Linked DNA regions of Homo sapiens. The protein of the gene in region 1 interacts with the protein of each later gene in a pairwise test. Each region holds a gene or a part of one and is shown in the gene's direction. Other genes may lie near its edges.

What was found. Proteins that work in one complex are often made in the same cells at the same time.
Region 2: the proteins of TSN (region 1) and ZBTB18 interact in a two-hybrid assay, tested with the Homo sapiens proteins (one study listed by BioGRID).

Annotation. Positions count from the first base shown.
Region 1 is NC_000002.12:121,765,651-121,768,353, forward strand, and holds the end of TSN (translin), read left to right. Parts: 3' UTR 1-2,203; downstream 2,204-2,703. UniProt on the Homo sapiens protein: DNA-binding protein that specifically recognizes consensus sequences at the breakpoint junctions in chromosomal translocations, mostly involving immunoglobulin (Ig)/T-cell receptor gene segments.
Region 2 is NC_000001.11:244,046,434-244,054,282, forward strand, and holds the start of ZBTB18 (zinc finger and BTB domain-containing protein 18), read left to right. Parts: upstream 1-4,849; 5' UTR 4,850-4,998; coding exon 4,999-5,011; intron 5,012-6,666; exon of another isoform or gene 6,667-6,767; intron 6,768-7,061; exon of another isoform or gene 7,062-7,354; coding exon 7,355-7,849.

The DNA of each region.
Region 1 (2,703 bases):
TTTCTTGCTTACCTTGACTGTTGATGTACTGATTGAGAAGTTCATTGTCTCGTTTGTGATTCTTCCAGATGTGATGCTTGATATTTTCTATATGCGAGTTAGCCATCCACACCCAGGCATAGCCTGGATACAGTATAAAAATAGATAATTAAAAAGATGGTTGCCAAGCAAGGAAAACTTATTTTATATTTTCCCTTCCTTATTTTAAGCATTGTGAGTAAATCAGATGTTGAATTCTTTTGCCAAGGGAATTATAGCTGCAGGTTCTCTCTCACTGCCATCAAACTGTAAAAGATTAAACTGCGAAGTCAAGCTCAACAGATTATTTTGGAAAGTTTTTGTATTAAGGGATTTAGTAACATCATTTTGTTTTCCACCAGGCAGGGAGTAGGGCTTAGTGTTTTAAAACACCTCTGCTTTCTGATGTTGCCTTAATATTCTGCTATTGCAGCAATTAAAAATTGTCTTCATGTACATTTGGAACTAACACGTGATGTGATATATTCCTAAACTATGAAACCTTTTTCCTAGTAGTCAGCTAGATCATTTGTTCTGGGAGTATAAAGCCACCCACGTAAGTTAATAAGCAAAATCCTGACTATTATGTTGTTAGAGAAAAATGCTTTGCTTTGTCTGGAAGAAAGATAAAATAGTGAATTATAAATAAGTCAGGCCGGGCGTGGTGGCTCACACCTGTAATCCCAGCACACTGGGAGGCCGAGGCAGGGGGACTGCTTGAGCTCAGGAGTTCGAGACCAGCCTGGGCAACAAAGTGAGACTCCATCTCTATATAAAAACAAAAACCACGAAAGCACACACAAAATAAATCAGTGGGATTTGGTAATGTGTTTTAGAGTAAGAAATTTCAGGTTGTTGGTGACTATCCCAACAGTCATGTTTTAAATGTACAGTTTGGGGCAAGTCATGTAAATACTGTTGGTGGTCTTCCCCACACGCCCCAATTTTCAGGTAGTACTAAGAGTATGTGCCAGGAAACTCTTGCTATTGAATTGAGATGATTAAAATGGTGACTTAATCCGTAGTTATTTTGCACCCACTGAAAGGAAAGTGCTTTCCAGAATAATATGAAGTATCTAAAAGTGTCACCTTTTCTTGCCTGATCAACAATTTGGGCTTCCTGTTTGTACAAGGGGCCATTTGGCATACCTTTCACAGCTTTTATCAGGCCAAGTTAAAGGCTGACTACATTTTTTCATCATGAGGAAAGCAGTTGAAATGAGGCATGAGTTACTGTGCATTGGGATTTTAGAACAATTTTCTTGTGACAGCTCTTTTTGTGAAGTTAGGTTCTTAAAAGTGCCCATGATGGTCACTTAAAATGTGCAGTAATAGCACTGCCAGGATCAAGCATGAAAGGCTTTTAAATTAGATCATCCCACAGACAATACGTTTGATAATAGTTTTTTCTTTTAACCTCTTTAAGTATTGATTCTGCTTGAGAATATTGAAGTACTTGCCAGAAGTTGTGGATTTCAGTTTTAACAAATGCTATTAAAGTGGAGAAGCACACTCTGGTCTTGGAATTCCATTTGAGGATTTAGAAGTGTCATGTTTATAACTATTCAGTTGTGTTTGTTGCTGGCTTGTTGTAAAGCAATAAAATTTTTTTGGTCTTTTTGTAAGTGAGTGTGCTGCTGTAAGAAATCTCCCATGTGCATAACAAATTCTGAATATTTTTTGAGGCTAAAGAAGACCGGGGTGACAAGCAGATACTGCTGTGTAATGGTTACACTAACCAAAAGACACCAGCCACTCAGAGTTCTATACTGTAAAGCGCAGATAACATTTGTGTGTTATACCTTGATTGGGGAATTAAAAGTCATTTAACTGAAGATGTTGAGAAACCTGGGCTCTGGTTTTAGTATACCGGAATTACTTTTTTCCAATTTTAGAAAATCAAGCAGGTTAGAGAAAATAGAGATGAATTAGGGGACACTGTCTTATGGATTCATTTATAAGAAGAGAACCAGCCATATACACTTGGGGAGATTTGCCACATCTTAAACTTGAATAATAGTATGAGTAATGCTTAAGGGAGTTTAATAGAGAAGGAAAGCTTTGGCAGTGTTTTGAGAACTTAAGTGGCTAAAGAGATGAGACAAACATGCAGGTCGCTACTGGCATAGTTTCATAATTGTGTACTCGGAAATTAAAGTTTGCTTGTTTCTTGGTCTGGATTAAACTGTTTGTCCTCCTTTTCAGATAGAGCATCACAGTCAGGGCTGACACCAAAATAAGACTTTCCCTGAGCCTGAAATAATTTTTTTTTTTTTTTAAGTATCTACTGTAATAAGCATCAAACAAGCAGAAATAAACAATGTCCCTTCCCCTGGACAACAACAACAGCAATAACAAACATTTAAAGGCGGTAAAATTGCCAGGACTGGTGGGTTGGTTGAGTGGGCTGGGTGCGGGTAGTAGGACGAGATGGGACGGGACGGGGAGGAATCTAGCATCGCTGCCAGGTTTCTGGCTCAGGTTTGGTGCCATTCACTGAGGTGAGGAGTGTAGGAAGATCGCATGTCTGGAGGGGGCTGGGCAGCTGATGCATTTGCTTTTGGATGTGTTGGATTTATGACACTGGAGCGGCAGGTGGATAAATCAAAAGTGGGTAAGATCTCCCTGGAGAACGTGTAGAATGAGAAGAGTCACAAGCTGGGGACAAATTCTTGGTTAACAGCA
Region 2 (7,849 bases), on another chromosome or scaffold:
TCAGTTCCCAAAATGGATTCTAGTAATGACTGTAAGGGAAACACAATACACACACACACACATACACACACAGGTTACAATTTTTGATGTATCAATGTCTCCTCCATATCTTTGGGGCTGTTACTCTACTTGCAGGTACATTCTATAAAACATTTTGTTAGAGCTATGCCTTGGCTTTAGATGCAGTACAGCTGAGTTTCTAAGCTTTTTGTAGATAATCCGAGTGTACTAATATTTTCATGAATTAATATCCTGACACTATCAATTACTTTCTGTCTACTCATGTAGAGATCTGTCACTCTCCTTAATTTTAACTTTTAGTAGATGAGAAACAGCTTTGATAACGCAAACATTTCTTTTTCCCTGAATTAGTTGGTGAAACATATACTTTTCACATCTCATTTTGTGTGCCTGTATATTTCATTCGTGAATAACATTTATTCCTTACCTTGAAACAGGTCAGACTGAAATTGGGCCTTCTACCACTAGACTGAAAAGACCTAGAATTCATCGACAGCACAGATACAACAAAAGCCTTCATGGAATACAAAAACTCCAATTTTCATAGGATATCCTTGACCTCAGTGATGAATCATGAGGGCGTAGAGGGTTGAGAAAAAAGTAGGCACATCACTACTGTTTCTAACCAGATATCTCGAAGCTATTTCAGTTCCAGGAATTCTGTCTGCTCCTGTTTTTACTTCATTAGCAATTCAACATGTCTGATTTGCCCACACAATACTTTCCAGCTACTTTACCCATTTGACCTGGAACAAAGTGAAAGCACATTTTGCCCAGTTGAAAGGTCTCCTGGCAGGTTGGTTAGCAACAGGCTTGCCAGTCTGGGTTCTGTTAGCAAAGAATAAACACATTTCATTAGACAATGACTAGTGGACTGACTTCCTCACTATGAAGTTGTTTTTTTTTTTCTATTTTATTTTCTTCAGCCATTCCCCCTCCCCCACCACTTGTTATTCAACTTTTTACTTGTAATTCTTGCCTCGATACGATTTCCAATTTCTTGACGGCAGACATTTCCACGTCTTTGTGGCTGTGATTAACGCAGTCTAATTGCCAAGAACAGGTACCGAGTAAAAGTTTATTTGAAGGAAAGAAAAGCGACACAGCAGTCTTACATCGTCCCTCGGTAGTTTAAAGTTGTGGCTAGATACGTATCAATTAAGGAATCAAGCTGAGGCATCTGCAAGTACCAATTTTACTGTAATGCTCTAAAATTTGGTCACTTGGGGAAGTCTTTACTTGTAACAGTGTAAGTACACAAGGGACAGGAGGGTTTTGCGAGAAAGGCGGGCGCTCTGCCCTGTTCTGCCCGTGACATGATGACGTAAGAACGACTCCCAGAAACTGCCTGAGTCGCCTGCGTCCCCAGCTCCCCGATGTGCACCTGGGCGCGGGACGCCGCAGGACGGAGCGAGAGCGCTCCTCGGTCCCGCTCCCCTGCGCACGGGCCGGCGAGGACCCGGGCGTCTTCACCCCCACAGGAAGGAGCAGAGAGAGCCACCCGAAGTCGGCCTCGAGTCATCCGTGTCCCCGGGTGCCCTGCCTCTCCAGGATACCTGCGTAACTCGCAGCAGCCAAGCCCCACTACGTTCAAAAGTGTGTTTGTGGTTGTCACAGTGCACACCGAAAAGCTCGCTCCGCACCCGCAGAGTGCGCGGGGCCTCTGAGCCTGGAAACAAGCCCCTCCCAGCGCAGCTGTCGCCGCCGCCTGCGGGCTCCTTTCACTTTCTCACGGCCAAGTCACCCAGAGGGGCGCCGCTGCTGCCACCGCCGCTGCGCCCGAGGACTCCGCCCCGCGCCGCTTCGCTCCGGATCCCCGCCCGCCCGAGCCCCGCCCACCCCAACAGTTGCTGCCTGCGATTGGAACGCGCGGGAGGGCAGCTACGGCTCGCCACCCCCATTGGCTGGGCCCCCTTGTCAGTCCGACGACTGCCCACCACCCCCTCCGCCTTCCCGAAGAGCCGCCTTCCCATTGGAGGAGTCTGAGGGCTGGGGGCGGGCGGGGAGCGCCGGTCCAGCCGCTTTCGGTCAATCGCAGAAGCCCAACGCCCGGAGGGAGGGAGGCAGGGGAAGGAGAGGGGCGGACTGAGGGTGGGGGGAACATCTGGCCGGCGCCGCCGCGTGCGTGCGTGGTGCGTCCTCCCGCCCCCTCCCCTCCCCCTCCCCCGCGCCCGCCCCCCCCCCGCCCCCGCCCCCCCACCCGGCCCGGCGGCTCCGCGCTCGCTCCCTCGCTCGCTCCCTCGCTGTGTCTGGCAGGCTGCGGCCGCCGCTGGGCTGCTGCCATGGGGAGCCGTTGAGAGTGGGGCCCTCTTCGCTCCGCCGCGCTCCTCCGGCTGCCAGCGGGGGTGGGCGGGAGGGAGGGGCGGGGGGGAGCGGGCGACGGAGCCGGGATTGGGGGGTGGGGGGGCCGGGAGGGAGGGGGGCAAGAGCCGGAGGAAGCCCACCAAGTCCGGCGGCGGCGGCGGCGGCCGGGAGGAGGAGGAGGAGGAGGCGGAGGACGCGGCGGCGGCGGGGACGCGGTGACTTAGGGCCGCTCCGTGTGAGTCCCGGCGCCGGCCCCTGGCCCCTGACCTGGCGCCCCCTCCGCGCCCCGGCACCCCGGCGGGCGGGGGGCGCCAGCTGTGCGGCCCCGGCCGGCTGGGCGGCGCGGGCGGAGGGCGGGCCGGGTCGGGGGCGCCCCCGCGAGTGGAGTTAGTTTGTGTGGTTGGAGCTGTTGGGGCGGCGGGGGGCGGCGCAGCTGCGGGAGGCCCGGGCGCGGGGACGGGGCCGCTGCAGCTGCGGGGTCGGGCGGGGTGCGGGTTCCCGGCTCCGCGCCGCGCCCCCGCGGGCCGGTGCAGCTGCGGCGCGGGGCGGGCTCCCGGCCGGTGCAGCTGCGGTGGCGCCTCTCGGGTGCGGAGGGCGGCGGGCTGGGGGAGGGGGCTTGGGAGCAGCCGCAGCTGCAGTGGCGCCCGGGACGGCCGCGGCTCCGGGGACCGGTGCAGCTGCAGTGGCGCCCGGGGGAGGGGGCCGGCGGGGGAGGGGGCCCTCCCGGGCTGGTGCAGTTGCCCGGAGGCCCCGGGGGCTCGCGCGTCGCGGCATCGGGGAAGCGGTAGCAACCACTCTCCTCCCGCTGGCTGCTTCTTACGACTTTTCTTTTGTTGTTGCCGTGACCCGGGTCTGTTTTCTCCTCTGTTGTTTAAGGTGTTTTCCTGCTGCACCGGCTCTGCGCCCTCCACCTCCTTCCCTGTGGTTTTAACCTTCCTCTTTCCCCGTGTGTTTTATGCACGGCGAACTACGTAAAGATTTGCATTGCTTCCCCACTCGGCACCCCCGCCCCCACCTCTCTGAAAAACAAAACCCCAACCTCACAAAACCTCTATGGATCCGCGGTAGCGAGACGTGAAGGGGTTGATTTGTGGAGTGGGAGTTGCTGGCCCATTGCGGTGCCCGGGACTCATTAAACTGTCACTCACCCCCCACCCCACTGGGTAAATGGGGTGATTAATGTCTGATATATTGGAATGGGTCGAGGGCATTTGTGGAGAATAGGTGGTGTGGCTGGGAAGAAATTGATCTCCCGAGGATGTCTCCTGGACTAAGTGTTCATAATTATGTCACTCACCGCGAAGTTGGAGAAAGTTAGGTTTGTGACTTTGGGAAAGCGAGAAGGACAGGACGGAGTCGTCGGGTTTTGTTACTCTTTAACTCTCCGCCACGGCTTTCTAATGGGAACGAAGTGGTTATCACCAGGGCTGGGACGCTGGCGCCTCAGGCCCCAGTTCCTTTTCTACCCCTCGCCCTCCCAAGAGTCTGAGGAGATGTATTTGACATTCAGAGATGTCGCAGCACCCTGCCCGGTACCGGTCAGCCCAGCCCGGGTCGCGTTACAGTTTCATCAGCTATTAGAAAAGACCCACAAACTGGCTGAAAAGTTCTCAAACTTACTAGACCTGGCTTCCCCCCACACAAAGATTTTCTTGTGATCATAAACATTAGAGTGACCCCCCCCCAAAGAAAAAAAAGATTGTTAAGGGACACAGATCAAGGGGAAGGCAAGGTTCTGCTTTTTCTGAGCAGAAAGATCAGATATGCAGGTGCAGCATTCATTTTAAGTGACTGGAGCAGGTTGTATCAGTTTATTAATTGGTCTCGTTGAACTGAAGTACTTTCCAGGATTTCAGAAAGTGCAGTTTCAGCTTGTTGGTACCGAGAATTGAAATTTGCATTGACTGTGGCAGTGTAAGAAATTTTTCTGAGAAGGTAGTTGTAGATAAGTAATTACATAAGAGTGAAATAATAAGGTGAACCAGTCTGAAGTAATAGTTCTGAACAAGTCTGCCAACATTTGAGACATGTATACCATTATCTCAGCAGAAAAAAATAAAAAAGTGCGGTAATAATGTTGAAATGGGACTGGAGATGTCAAATGGGTTGGTTTAAAAATATCCCTAAACTGCTTTAGAAACTAAACGTTGGAGTTGAATAAAAGTGAATCTGGATTTCCTGAATAGCACCGTGGCTTGAGTGTGCTGTCAGTATGTAAGCCAGTCCACCAACTTAAGACAGAAGTGTTGCTATTCCATAAATACAGTAGAACTCCATATGCTGAGTTTTTCAATTTCTTCTGTTAGAAAGTTTGGAAAAAAAGGAAGACTTTGAAGTATTTTGTTTATACTAACAGAAGAGAAAAGTTCTCCTAAGAAAAAGCTGGTGGCAGGAGTGTAGAGGAGTAGCATATGGCATTAAAAGGAGCACAGCTGGAGGTAGCATTTCCATCTGAACATGATGTCAGAGCAGCTGACAGCCTGCCATCCCTCAGCCTTTTATTCTAACACACAGACAGGGAGTTAGTGTGTGCGGATCTGTGGTGGAGAAGGTATCTCATTCCTCTCTAACATCATCTCCACTTTGCATCTGTCTCTCTTAGTCTGCTTTTTTTCCACCGATGTAACAGACCTGGAGCCAGCAGGACTCAGAGGAAAGGACTTAATCAGGTTTATGTGTCCTAAAGGTAGGAGTAGCAAGAGATTAGATTGAGCATATTTCTGTTTTGGTGTTTTGTTTATTTAATTTTAAAAATCACATTACTTTTCTAACCCAGTTTAGGAATAATATATGAAATTGAGTATTAAATGAACATCTTACTGGAGTTGAAAGTCTTGAGCTTGTTTAGTTTTAATTTTTTATCCCTTTTACTTGAGCGAGTAAATAACTTTAATACACAAATATTTCAAGTTTTGAAATGTTAAGAAAGGCTTTAAAATGCTGCTTTTGGAAATCACGTTGGATTAAAATGCTTTTTTGTTGTTCACTGCTATTTAGATTTGATTGGGGTGGTGGTGGTGGGGAAATAGTAAACTGGAATCCAGCATTCAAACTTATATGAGAAGATTATTCTAGTTAAGCAGCTAGATTGTTGTATAATTAATTCCTCTGTGAAACTTTATTCTTCAAAACATTGAGCAGCACTACTGAAACATACAGCTGTAGTGCTGTTGAAACTGCAGGTTTTTAAGAAGAAGAAAAAAAAACCAAACTTTTGTCCCCAGGAGAATAGTTTGACTGGTTTCCTCATTTCTCTTTCAAATATATATTTAAGAGATCTTTTATTTCAGCATAACAATAATTATTTGCAGGAGTTTTTGTGTTAGCGACTAATTTAGAACTTGTAGATTTGAGCTGCCTGAATTGGCCAGACAGCTGTAATCGCACTCCTCTATTCTTAATCTCTTTATCTGGGCAGCAGCTGCCATATGGCCACAGTCAGCTGGATCAGATGTTTATAAGCTTCCTTCTTCGTCCCTCTCTGTCCTCTCAGCCTCCTAATTTGATCACGGCTACCTTGTGAGCTGCCCTCCAATCTTTATTTTTAGCCTTCTCAAGGATTAGGATTGATGTTAGCTGTGGGGCACTTAAAGTGATTGTATTGTAAATCTTAGTTTATTCTAGCAGTGGCATCTTGCAGAATGTGTCTGGGGTTAGGATAAAGTTTTAGTCTGTCTTGGGCAAAGTGTAGAAGAACAAGAAGAAAGGAAGTAATTTCTGAATATTAAATTAAGTGTATCTATTCCCAAAATGCACTTGCTGAGATGGGTGGTGTGGAGGCTTGCTTCTGGTCACAGGAAAGGGGAAGTCGGGTCTTCTTTATTTTTCAGGAGTTTACCCACTGCAGTTGAATTCTGACCCTTTGTACATCTTTGCCTTTCTCCTCCCTCCATTTCACTTTCCCTCATCACAAAACAAGGGCAATGATGAATATTTGCAAGAATAGAAGCTAGTGGGAAAACAGAAATATATCAAATTATATTGAAACAAAGTATTTTCTGTTGGCTGAGGTAAGGCAGAACCAGGAAAAAAAAAAAGGTTCTCTTTTTCTAAAAAGGCTTAAAAAAAAACGTTGAACCTGTAAAGCTTTTGAGTTTTATTTAAGCGCTGTATGCCTTTATTTTTAAAAGTTTGAATTAATTTCAATATGAAACTCATTTTGCCTTGCAACGGATCAAAGTTTAGATGAGAATTTTCGGAGTTCAGTAAAGCCCCTCTGGTTCCTAATATTCTGAAAGTACAGTTTCTACAAAGAAATGTAACTACTTTTTTCTCAGTTCGTTTTGAAAAATCTTTGGATTTGTTCATAGTAAAGATGATCTTTTCCATCTGTTGGTGCAGCTCCTTCTGATCTCGTACATGTGTGCTATACCTGCAAATCTGAAGGCATTAACATCTGTTTTTATACACAGGGCTTTTGTTGTAACACCCTGACTTTAAAAGTAAGTTGTTTGCTAATTTCTGGACTAATTATGCAATTTCATTTTTTTTTCTTGATTCAGCCAAATGTGTGTGTGTGTGTTTAAACTGTGCTTTCTAAGCACAGTCAGGTAGCAAAAGTAATAAAAAGGATGGTTGAACAAGTTTTCTTGTATGTTCCAGGATATGTTTGGGACTTTTCTTTGTTTATTATATGAGTTGTTCCCTTTGAAATTAAAGCTATTTTGTAGGTTTTGTGGGACATAATTTGATAAGTAGAGTTAATTAAATTTCTTCTGGAAGAGATCTAAATTCTTATTCTTAGTGAGAGACTGTAGTTAAAGGAAGGCTTTTAGAACTTGGGTTCAAGGAAGATGGAGATGCGTCGGAAGCTCTTTGGCGGGGGTGAGGAAGTTCAGAAAGTGTGCATTTTCCTTCTGGCATTTAGGTCTTGTCCGTGTGATTTGGTGGTGCTTGGGTCATAAGCCTGATTAAAATTCAGGGACATGTACCACGGCGGCCAAAGCGGAATTAATTTTTTTATATGGGGACTGGAGCGCTGAAAAGTTGTTCCTGACCAGGCTCTAATGAGAAATTCCTCTCTCCCCAGGTTATGAAGACAGTATGGAGTTTCCAGACCATAGTAGACATTTGCTACAGTGTCTGAGCGAGCAGAGACACCAGGGTTTTCTTTGTGACTGCACTGTTCTGGTGGGAGATGCCCAGTTCCGAGCGCACCGAGCTGTACTGGCTTCATGCAGCATGTATTTCCACCTCTTTTACAAGGACCAGCTGGACAAAAGAGACATTGTTCATCTGAACAGCGACATTGTTACAGCCCCCGCTTTCGCTCTCCTGCTTGAATTCATGTATGAAGGGAAACTCCAGTTCAAAGACTTGCCCATTGAAGACGTGCTAGCAGCTGCCAGTTATCTCCACATGTATGACATTGTCAAAGTCTGCAAAAAGAAGCTGAAAGAGAAAGCCACCACGGAGGCAGACAGCACCAAAAAGGAAGAAGATGCTTCAAGTTGTTCGGACAAAGTCGAGAGTCTCTCCGATGGCAGCAGCCACATAGCAGGCGATTTGCCCAGTGATGAAGATG